Linked DNA regions of Homo sapiens: region 2 is linked to region 1. Evidence: fine-mapped expression QTL. A gene starts in region 1. The other region holds a variant in brackets. All regions are shown on one strand. Distances are between the middles of the regions.

Region 1 (4,399 bases):
TGCAGCCCCCTTACTTGATCCAGAGGTAGATAAATGGCCCTGTCTTCTAGTGTCTCCTTAGGAGGTGAGGAAATCTCTAAAAGCACCATCCCATCAAGCACACTGCCTCTTGCCTTTCCTTGGCTACATCAGGGACCTGTGCCCACCCCTAAACCAATGGTGGTGAAAAGAATGAAACCATCGTGATTAGTTTGCACAAATGGTTCTCAAAGCCTTATTTGGGGAACACTGGAGACCCCTGAGACCATTTCAAGAGGTTTTAAAAGACTATTTTCATAATATTAAAACATTTGCCATTTTCACTCATTCTTCCATGTGTACAATGGAATTTTCCAGAGGCTACATGATGTGATTTTGCAACAGATTGAATTCAGAAGCAAATATGAGAATCTATTTGTCTTCTATTAAGACAAATTAAATATTTGCAAAAATGTAGTGATGCCGTCACTGGTAAACTGTCCTCTTTCCCTACTTTATATCAGCCACAAAGAAAGAACGCCCACTTTGAAAGGCAGTCAGGTTTCATTCAGTAGCCAGAGAATGGAGAAGGGGAGCTCATACTCTAAAGGCACCTTCTCCCAGAGGGATGGGAGGCTGGGGAGTTTAAAGAGTTAGCTGAGGGGCGGGGGAGGTATGAACGGCATGCACAGACTGGAGTTCCAGACAAGCAGGCATAGTCCCTGAACATGCTGCTTCATACATCCATGTTCGTAAGATGCCAGTGAGCTTTCTTTAGGGAGAGGATTTTAGCATTATGTTAATTATCTAAAGGTAACTGGAGGGCGCCTGTTTATCTTCCTCTGGTATTCCGCAAGGGGTCAGGAAGCTCTGGTGACATCTGGGCCATCTGGCTTCCTTAAGCAGCTGCGCCTATAAATAGACTATGGGAAAAAACTGGCTGGGCTTGGTGGCTCATACCTGTAATCTCAACGCTTTGGGAGGCGGAGGCAGAGGGATGTCTTGAGGCCAGGAGTTTGAGACCAGCCTGGGCAACATAGACCCTGGGTCTACCAAAAAAAAGAAAAAAACCACAGCTACTCAGGAGGCTTATGCCACTGACAATGTCATACTATCCACCAGTGGGGGAAGGAGGATTTGGGAAATAATTGTTTTCCATAAAAATATTTCGTTAATGTATAACATCGGTTTTTTAAAAAGAGTTAAGCATTAAGATGTTCTGATTTAATTTTTAATATGGTAAATATTGATAGTCATAACACACATAAACTATTGGTCGTGTCAATATTTTAGGGTGTAAAGGGTCCTGAGGCCATAATGAGAACTGCTAATTTAGACCAAGTTTCTGCCCAAGATCTGGCGATCAAATCAGGGCTCCCTTAGGAAGGAATTGGCGGGAGGAATGGATGTTAGGTGGGGACAAACCTGTGTCTGCTGTGCTTCCATTTCTTGGTGGTTCTCAGTTTGAGCATGCATCAGAATCGTCATAAAGTGTGTTAAAACAGATTGCTGGGCCTCACCCCCAGTGTCTGATTCAGGAGGTCTGGGATAAGGACCGGGAATGTGCTAAAACTTAGTAGTTTCCAGGTGAATCTGATGTCCCTGGCGGGGAACTGGTGCACAGCTTGGGGCGTGCTTCACAGCAATCATCTCACTCAGCTACCTTAGAATGGCAGGTGCTATTTATGCCATTTTACTCATTCGAAACTTTAAACCTGAAGATTACAACGAGTTAACTAAGTTTACAAGGAATAAAGGCAGTGATTTTCACACACTAAGACAATTTTTTAAAAGCAAACGTCCGTTTATAAATCGAGCTTATGCTATTTAAACAGGCATTGGGACTACGAAGAGCAATAAGTACTACCTAGTCCCTGCAAGGAATTTGTGAATTAGAGAAAGATGTAAACTCAGAAATATGGCGGTGCCAGGGCAGTGAGAGGCACAGGCACAGAAGAAGAATTTATTTTCACTGCAGGAGGCCTCCTAGAAAGTTGCCAGGAGCGGTGGCTTATGTCTGTAATTCCAGCACCTTGGGAGGCCCAGGCGGGAGTATCGCTTGAGCCCTGGAGTTTCAGACCAGCCTGGAAACCCGTCTCTACAAAAAATACAAAAATTAGCTGGGCGTGGTGGCGGGAGCTTGTAGTTAAAGCTACGAGGGAGGCTGAGGCGGGAGGATCGCTTGAGCCTGGGAGGTAGAAGCTGCAGTGAGCAGAGGCCGCGCCACTCCACTCCCGCCTGGCCACAGCATTAGACCCAATCTCAAAAATGAAGAAAACAGTTCCGAGCGTATTACGGAACGGAGTACACCTCGGAGTACGGGCTCCAGACGAGGGAACGCACCGGCGTTGCCACGCCCACCTTCCCCGTCCAGCCGGAAGTGGCGCGGACGCCTGCTCAGTGCGCGCCGGCCGGGCAACCCTATGCTGGCGTAATCGGGTTCCTCCGAGCCGCCGTAGGACTGGTTCCGGCGGGCTGGTGAGGAATGGAGCCGGTAGGCTGCTGCGGCGAGTGCCGCGGCTCCTCCGTAGACCCGCGGAGCACCTTCGTGTTGAGTAACCTGGCGGAGGTGGTGGAGCGTGTGCTCACCTTCCTGCCCGCCAAGGCGTTGCTGCGGGTGGCCTGGTGAGGAGAGGAGGCGGAGGCGGGAAGCTTGCCTGGGGACACGCCGTGGGCATGTCCCAGGCTGGCGGGGTGGGGGGAGAGACCCTTGGGACCCACCAGGGCCGTCCCCGGCTCGCTCGCCCTACCTGAGGTGACCCCCTACCCGCGAGGTATCTCCCAGCCGTGGTGCCCCGGGGGGACTTCCCTGAGGGGCGAAGTTCCCCTTAAGGTTTTCTCCATATCTGGCTCTTCTTCCGAACTAGCGCCCTGACTGACACCTACCTACCCCGGGGACTTTGGATCCCGCAGGGATCTCCTGCTGCTGCGCCAGCGGGTGGGGGTTTGTGAGCTGTGGGAGAGACGAAAATGAACGTCCGTTCGCAATCCTTTGTGCGTTTGCGTCCTCAGCGTGTGCCGCTTATGGAGGGAGTGTGTGCGCAGAGTATTGCGGACCCATCGGAGCGTAACCTGGATCTCCGCAGGCCTGGCGGAGGCCGGCCACCTGGAGGGGCATTGCTTGGTTCGCGTGGTAGCAGAGGAGCTTGAGGCAAGTAGCAAGGGGTGTCATGCACAGTCATTTGCAGGTTGGTGGTTCAGTCTTTGAGAACTATTTTTTTTTAAATCCCAGTTTTGTTAATTAAAGGAACATCTCGTTCCGTGAAAAGATTTTGTAAACATCAGTTTTAGTGACTACACGGTAAGGATGTGTCATGATTTATTTGACCGTTCATCAAATGTTGGGCCTTTTTTTTTTTTTTTGAGACGTAGTCTCGCTCTGTGGCCCAGGCTGGAGTGCAGTGGCGCGATCTCGGCTCACCGCAAGCTCCGCCTCCCGGGTTCACGCCATTCTCCTGCCTCAGCCTCCCGAGTAGCTGGGACTACAGGCGCCCGCCACCATGCCCAGCTAATTTTTTGTATTTTTAGTAGAGATGGGGTTTCACCGTGTTAGCCAGAATGGTCTCGATCTCCTGACCTCGTGATCCGCCCGCCTCGGCCTCCCAAAGTGCTGGGATTACAGGCGTGAGCCACCGCGCCCGGCATGTTGGGCCTTTTAAGTATCCACATTTTCACTATTAACAACAACGCTGTGCAGAACCTTCCCTTCACCTGCTTCCCTTGAAGCAACTTTTTGTTGTCTGTTTTACCGGGAAGACAACTGGGTGTGTCTTGCTCAGTGAGCACACCTAGAAAGCCAAGAACCAAAACTTAAAGCCAAATATTTCAACTTCTGATCCTGTACTCTTTTGCTTCTCTGGCCCCCAACTTCAAAAGGGGAGCCAACACCAGGAGAGATGAAGACTCGAACTGTGGAGTCAGAGGGGCTGCAGGGTGTACCATCTCTGGGGAGTGGAAGGGAACCATTTGACAGTAAAGTGCCAACCTGCTGCTCTGTCACTCTGTTTACTTTAGTACGGCTTACAGACAGACATAACTACGGTGCAGCCGTCACAATCAGGAAATTATCACTGATACATTTCTACCATTTTATCCTCAGACTCGGTTCAGATTTTGCCAGTTGTCCCAGTAAGGTTCTTCATGGCAAAAAGATCTGTTCCCAATTGCAATTTGCTCTGAGTAAGTCCTGTTTCTTTAATCTCCTTTGATCTGGAACAGTTTCTCAAGCTTTGCTTGATTTTTCCCAATCTTGACACTTAGGAAAATCACAGGCTATTTTGTAGAACATCCATCAATTGTGTCTTTGGCAGGAAATAATCACAGAAGTGATGCTGTGCTTTTTTCACGGCATACTTTAGGTGGCATGTGATTTCCATTCGTCTTGTTATTGGTGGTATTACCTTTGATTACTCAATTAAGGCGATGCTTGCCAAGTGTCTTC
Region 2 (4,399 bases), 46 kb before region 1:
GGGTGTGTAGTGGCTCATGCCTGTAATTCCAGAACTTTGGGATGTTGAAGCAGGCAGGTTGCTTGAGCTCATGAGTTTAAGACCAGCCTAGGCAACATGGTGAAACCTGTCTCTACAAAAAATACAAAAATTAGCAGGGTGTAGTGGCACACACTTGTAGTCCCAACTACTGAGGAGGCTGAGGTGGGAGGATTGCTTGAGCTTGGGAGGTGGAGATTGCAGTAAGCCTAGATTGTGCCTCTGAACTCTAGCCTAGGTGACGGAGTGAGACCCCGTCTCAAAAAAAAATGTATATATATATGTGTGTGTTTATACATGTATGTGTATATGTGTATATACGTGTGTGTGTGTGTGTGTGTGTGTATATATATATATATATATATATAATGAATTTCAGTACAAATCCCAGCAGATTTATTTTTGGAAGTTGACAAAATGACTCTAACATTTGTTTAAAAGGGTAAATGATAAAAAAATAAAGAATAGACTTGTTCAACCAGATGTTCAATAAAATGTTGTATACTAACTCTGTTCCAGACAGATAAAGGCAATGGAAATTTAGAACCAGAGTCATGCAAATGAGAATTTAGTATAAGGTAAAGGTGGTATTCTAACTTAATAAGGAAAGGCTAGATTATTCTGTAAACAGTCTTAGGAAAACTATTTGAGGAAGTTTGAGTCTCAACTCTGATTTTTGTCAAAATAAGTTATAGTTGTATAGTTGGTTTAAACACATCTATTCTTAAGAACAGAAGGCTGGGCATGATGGCTCACGCCTGTAATCCCAGAACTTTAGGAGGCCCAGGCAGGCGGATCAGTTGAGGTGGGGAGTTCAAGACCAGCCTGGCCAACATGGCGAAACCCCATCTCTACTAAAAATACAAAATTTAGCCGGGTGTGGTGGCATGTACCTGTGATCCCAGCTACTTGGAGGCTGAGGCAGGAGAAGTGCTTCAACCTGGGAGGCAGGTTGCAGTGAGCCGAGATTGTGCCACCGTACTCTAGCCTGGGCGACAGAGCAAGACTCTGTCTCCAAAAAAAAAAAAAAGATATTTTAAGAGTTAAGGCTGAGGCTTGGCACAGTGGTTCATGCCTGTAATCCCAGCACTTTGGGAGGCTGAGGTGGGAGGATTGCTTGAGCCCAGGAGTTTGAGATTAGCTTTGGCAACATAGCAAGACCCTCTTTCTCTCTCTCTCTGTACACACACATGCACACGTACGTACGTATGTTAAGGTTTGTATGGAGAGCCATGAAGGTAAGAGGTAAAAATTAAAAGCTAGATGGACACATGTTTACATCCCCAGCAAGGGGGTTGATGGGAAAGAGTGGTAGACATAGTTCTGTTACTGCTACCTCCTTTTAGGAAGTTGCTTCTGAAGATCTAAAGATAACGGTTTTGTAATAGCAAAAATGAGTTATTTTTCAGTATCTAAAATATTACATAAACATGTTCATAAGGTTAAATGAAATAGGATATAAAATTGGGCCTAGTTTTTTAAAAGTGAATATATTTACATGAAGGAGAAAACAACTCACCTCCCACTCTTGCAGCCTCTGCCAGTTTATCAAAACCTAGTTTCTTGAGAGAATAAGCTACATGTCTTCACCTTTTTTCGCTGAAGTTATTATAATCTGGATTCTGCCTTCATCATTGCACTAAAATTTATCTCCTAGTTGCCAAAACTAGCGGCTCCTCTCTTAGTCCCCAAATTGACCCCTCTGCAGTATTTTGATACTGTTGATTGTTCCCTTGTTGAAACATTCCTGCATTCTTAATGTCCACCAATAAAGAGTTGGTTAAATAAAAATCATAGTGTATAGTTTTATAATAGAATATTCTGTTGTAGGCAAAAAAAAAAAAAATGCAGCCATTTTTTCCATAAGAGCATGTGCAGATTTCTAAGATATATTAAATGAAAAAGCAAGGCATAAAATATTGTGTATAATTGGCCCCTTTAGTATATAATGTAAAAAAAATCTATATGCTTGTTTATACTTTTTTCTTTCCTGGTGGGTACAGGAAACTGTCAATAGTAGAACACAATTAAGAAAAATTGGCTTCTGTGTCAGGCTCTGTGATAATTGAGTATAAAAGACAAGGCATGTCCCTGTCCTCTGGGAACTGATAATCTAATGGAACTTCCATCTGATTACTGTCTTGTTTTGATCTTATCACCCTGCCTTGGTCTCCTCTGATCTCTTCTCCCTTGGCCTACTTCTTCTCTTCTCATTCTGTGCTTTCTCTGAGTAATATTTTACTCCCATTACTTTAGTCATGATCTCTGTTCTAGGGATTCCTAAATCTGTATTCATCTCCAGAGTTTCAAACCCATATATCTGTCTGTAAATCATATATGTTAGGGAATCTCACTTACAGTGCCATGGATATTCAAAATGATGACGTTTAAATTTGCGTTTACCCACCTCCTAGCACTCTATCAGCCCCGTGTTTTTTCTCAGTAATTCTTGTGATTGTGAGTGGGACAAAATGAAATAATCAAACTAGTCACCCATACCCAAACCTGGGAACTGTCTTAGCGTTCTTTTATATACTACTGTTCTCTGACCCCCGCCCCCCGCAAACTAGTAATTTTCTAAGACCTGTCCTTCTGAATGTCTCTTACTATTTTCCCTGTGATCTCAGTTTCTTCCTCCCATCCCTCAAATGCTTTTTTGGTGTGTGGGGGAAGGGAGGAAAATTGAAATTCGTGGAGA[G/A]TGTACTACCCTGTCTTTCTTGTTGCTTGGTATGACTCCACTACCCTGCTGCCTCTCTCCCCAGCACTCCTGGAGCCCCTTCCGTGCCAGAGGCCAGAGTGTCTAGGTCTGTGTCCGGATTGCTCTGCCTCATCTTCATTATGCACTTAGCACGCAATAGAGTGTATTGGGTGGATATCAAATCCACACTGGAGCTTGGTTTCCGTTTAAGCATGAAGATTTTTGTTGGATCGTAATTTACCGTTCAACCTTCCTCATTTTCATTTGCTCCGTTGTCCACTTTGGGAAAGCTTATTCTTTGCTTCGTTAACCCATTCTAATCCTATGTCTTCTTTCTTTGTCCTTTGTAAACCTGCTTCTTTCTCTTCATCTCTTTTCTTGGTCAGAGCCACCTAGGAAACTGTTCCTGACCGAGTTAAGTGAGTTGCCTTATTAGATCCCATTTGAGTCACGTTATACATTGAAAAACATTTTAAACAATGAACACCATACTTGTGCACATGATTTACCTTGCTTACTTGTTGAAAGCAAATATGCTTAGAAAACAATCTGGACTTAAACATGGAAATTTACAGTTATTCTTTGCAGTTTTCCTAGTGAATTATTGTTATTTTTTATACAGACACTTAAGAGCCTACTAAATATCAAGTGTTACAGGTTTCATTTAATCTTTACCATTCTGGGAAAGTTTTCATTTCTTTGTTTTACAGATGGGTAGACTCATACTCAGGGAATTAGATAGGATATCCAAGGTCATCTAGATTGCCAGGCTCTGTCTACTAGATATTTGCTTCTGTATTTTTAAATGAATATGACTGGAATATATAATTTTGTAATCCATCTGTAACAACACTGCCTGTGTGTGTCTGGGTTATTTTTTCTGTTATTTTTTGTTTTTATTTTTTTGGTAGCCTCATTAATGCATTAATGTTCTCTTGTCTGAAGTTGTAAGTTTCTCAGAAAACGGGTTAGCAGTGAGAAATTGGACAATGTCTGGAACTTCCTTCCTCTGCCCTTATTGTTGTCATTCTGCTAGGTATCAGTTGTAGTGATTATACCCCAAGCCATAGTAACTTTCTTACACTAGAGGGTCCTGAAAATATTTTAAAGACTATTTTTTAAATCTGTAAGCTGCAGTTGAGCAGTAACAAACTTTTTCATTTCCTACTGGATTGATTACAGTAGTCATAACATTATTGATGTCTTCTAAGGGCTCTTTAACATAATGCTTATTTACTGAAATGTGTTTTGTAGCTTCGTCAGCAATTGAAGTGGTTGATATGTGAACTCTGCAGTTTATATAACCTTCCTAAGCACCTGGATGTTGAGATGCTAGATCAACCACTACCCACGGGTCAGGTAAAGTAAAAATTCTCTAGTGTTCAAGAGCTAAATAAATTGTCTCAAGCAAAAGTCAAACTAGGATGATTTTTCTTTTTATTGTTCAACTTATTTAGAAGTTAGTTTCATTTTTGTTCCTATTGAATTGTTTTGTTTGTTCTGTTTTAGGTACTAAAAATAAACTTTTCATTCTTTGGAGCTGCTGGTATTTACTATACAGGCAAACAATTGCCCTTCTCTCTACCACCACCTTTTTGTTAATATTGCTGGTTTCCGTAAATGCTCTTGCTTCTTTCATAGTTTGTCTTTGGTTATTCAATTACCTTCACCTAGCAATGTCAT

What was found. PIP is the estimated chance that this variant, and not a neighbour inherited with it, causes the effect. A credible set is the group of variants that fine-mapping cannot tell apart.
Region 2: its variant is the best candidate, but not a certain one, in a credible set for the expression of FBXO22 in whole blood (INTERVAL, PIP 0.65).

What each region holds. Positions count from the first base shown.
Region 1 is chr15:75,901,521-75,905,919 of GRCh38, forward strand. It overlaps FBXO22 (F-box protein 22), which reads left to right and starts at 2,358. Exons shown (of 7, transcript NM_147188.3): 1 at 2,358-2,583; 2 at 2,971-3,109. The coding sequence starts at 2,444. RefSeq lists enhancers at 1,526-2,185, 2,010-2,099, 2,186-2,843, 2,460-2,559, 2,580-2,629 and a silencer at 2,680-2,749.
Region 2 is chr15:75,855,908-75,860,306 of GRCh38, forward strand. UBE2Q2 (ubiquitin conjugating enzyme E2 Q2) reads left to right here. Exons shown (of 13, transcript NM_173469.4): 3 at 3,971-4,075. Among named protein-coding and RNA genes, the nearest start is that of UBE2Q2, 15 kb to the left of the region's middle. The variant G/A (reference allele first, on the strand shown) is at 2,717.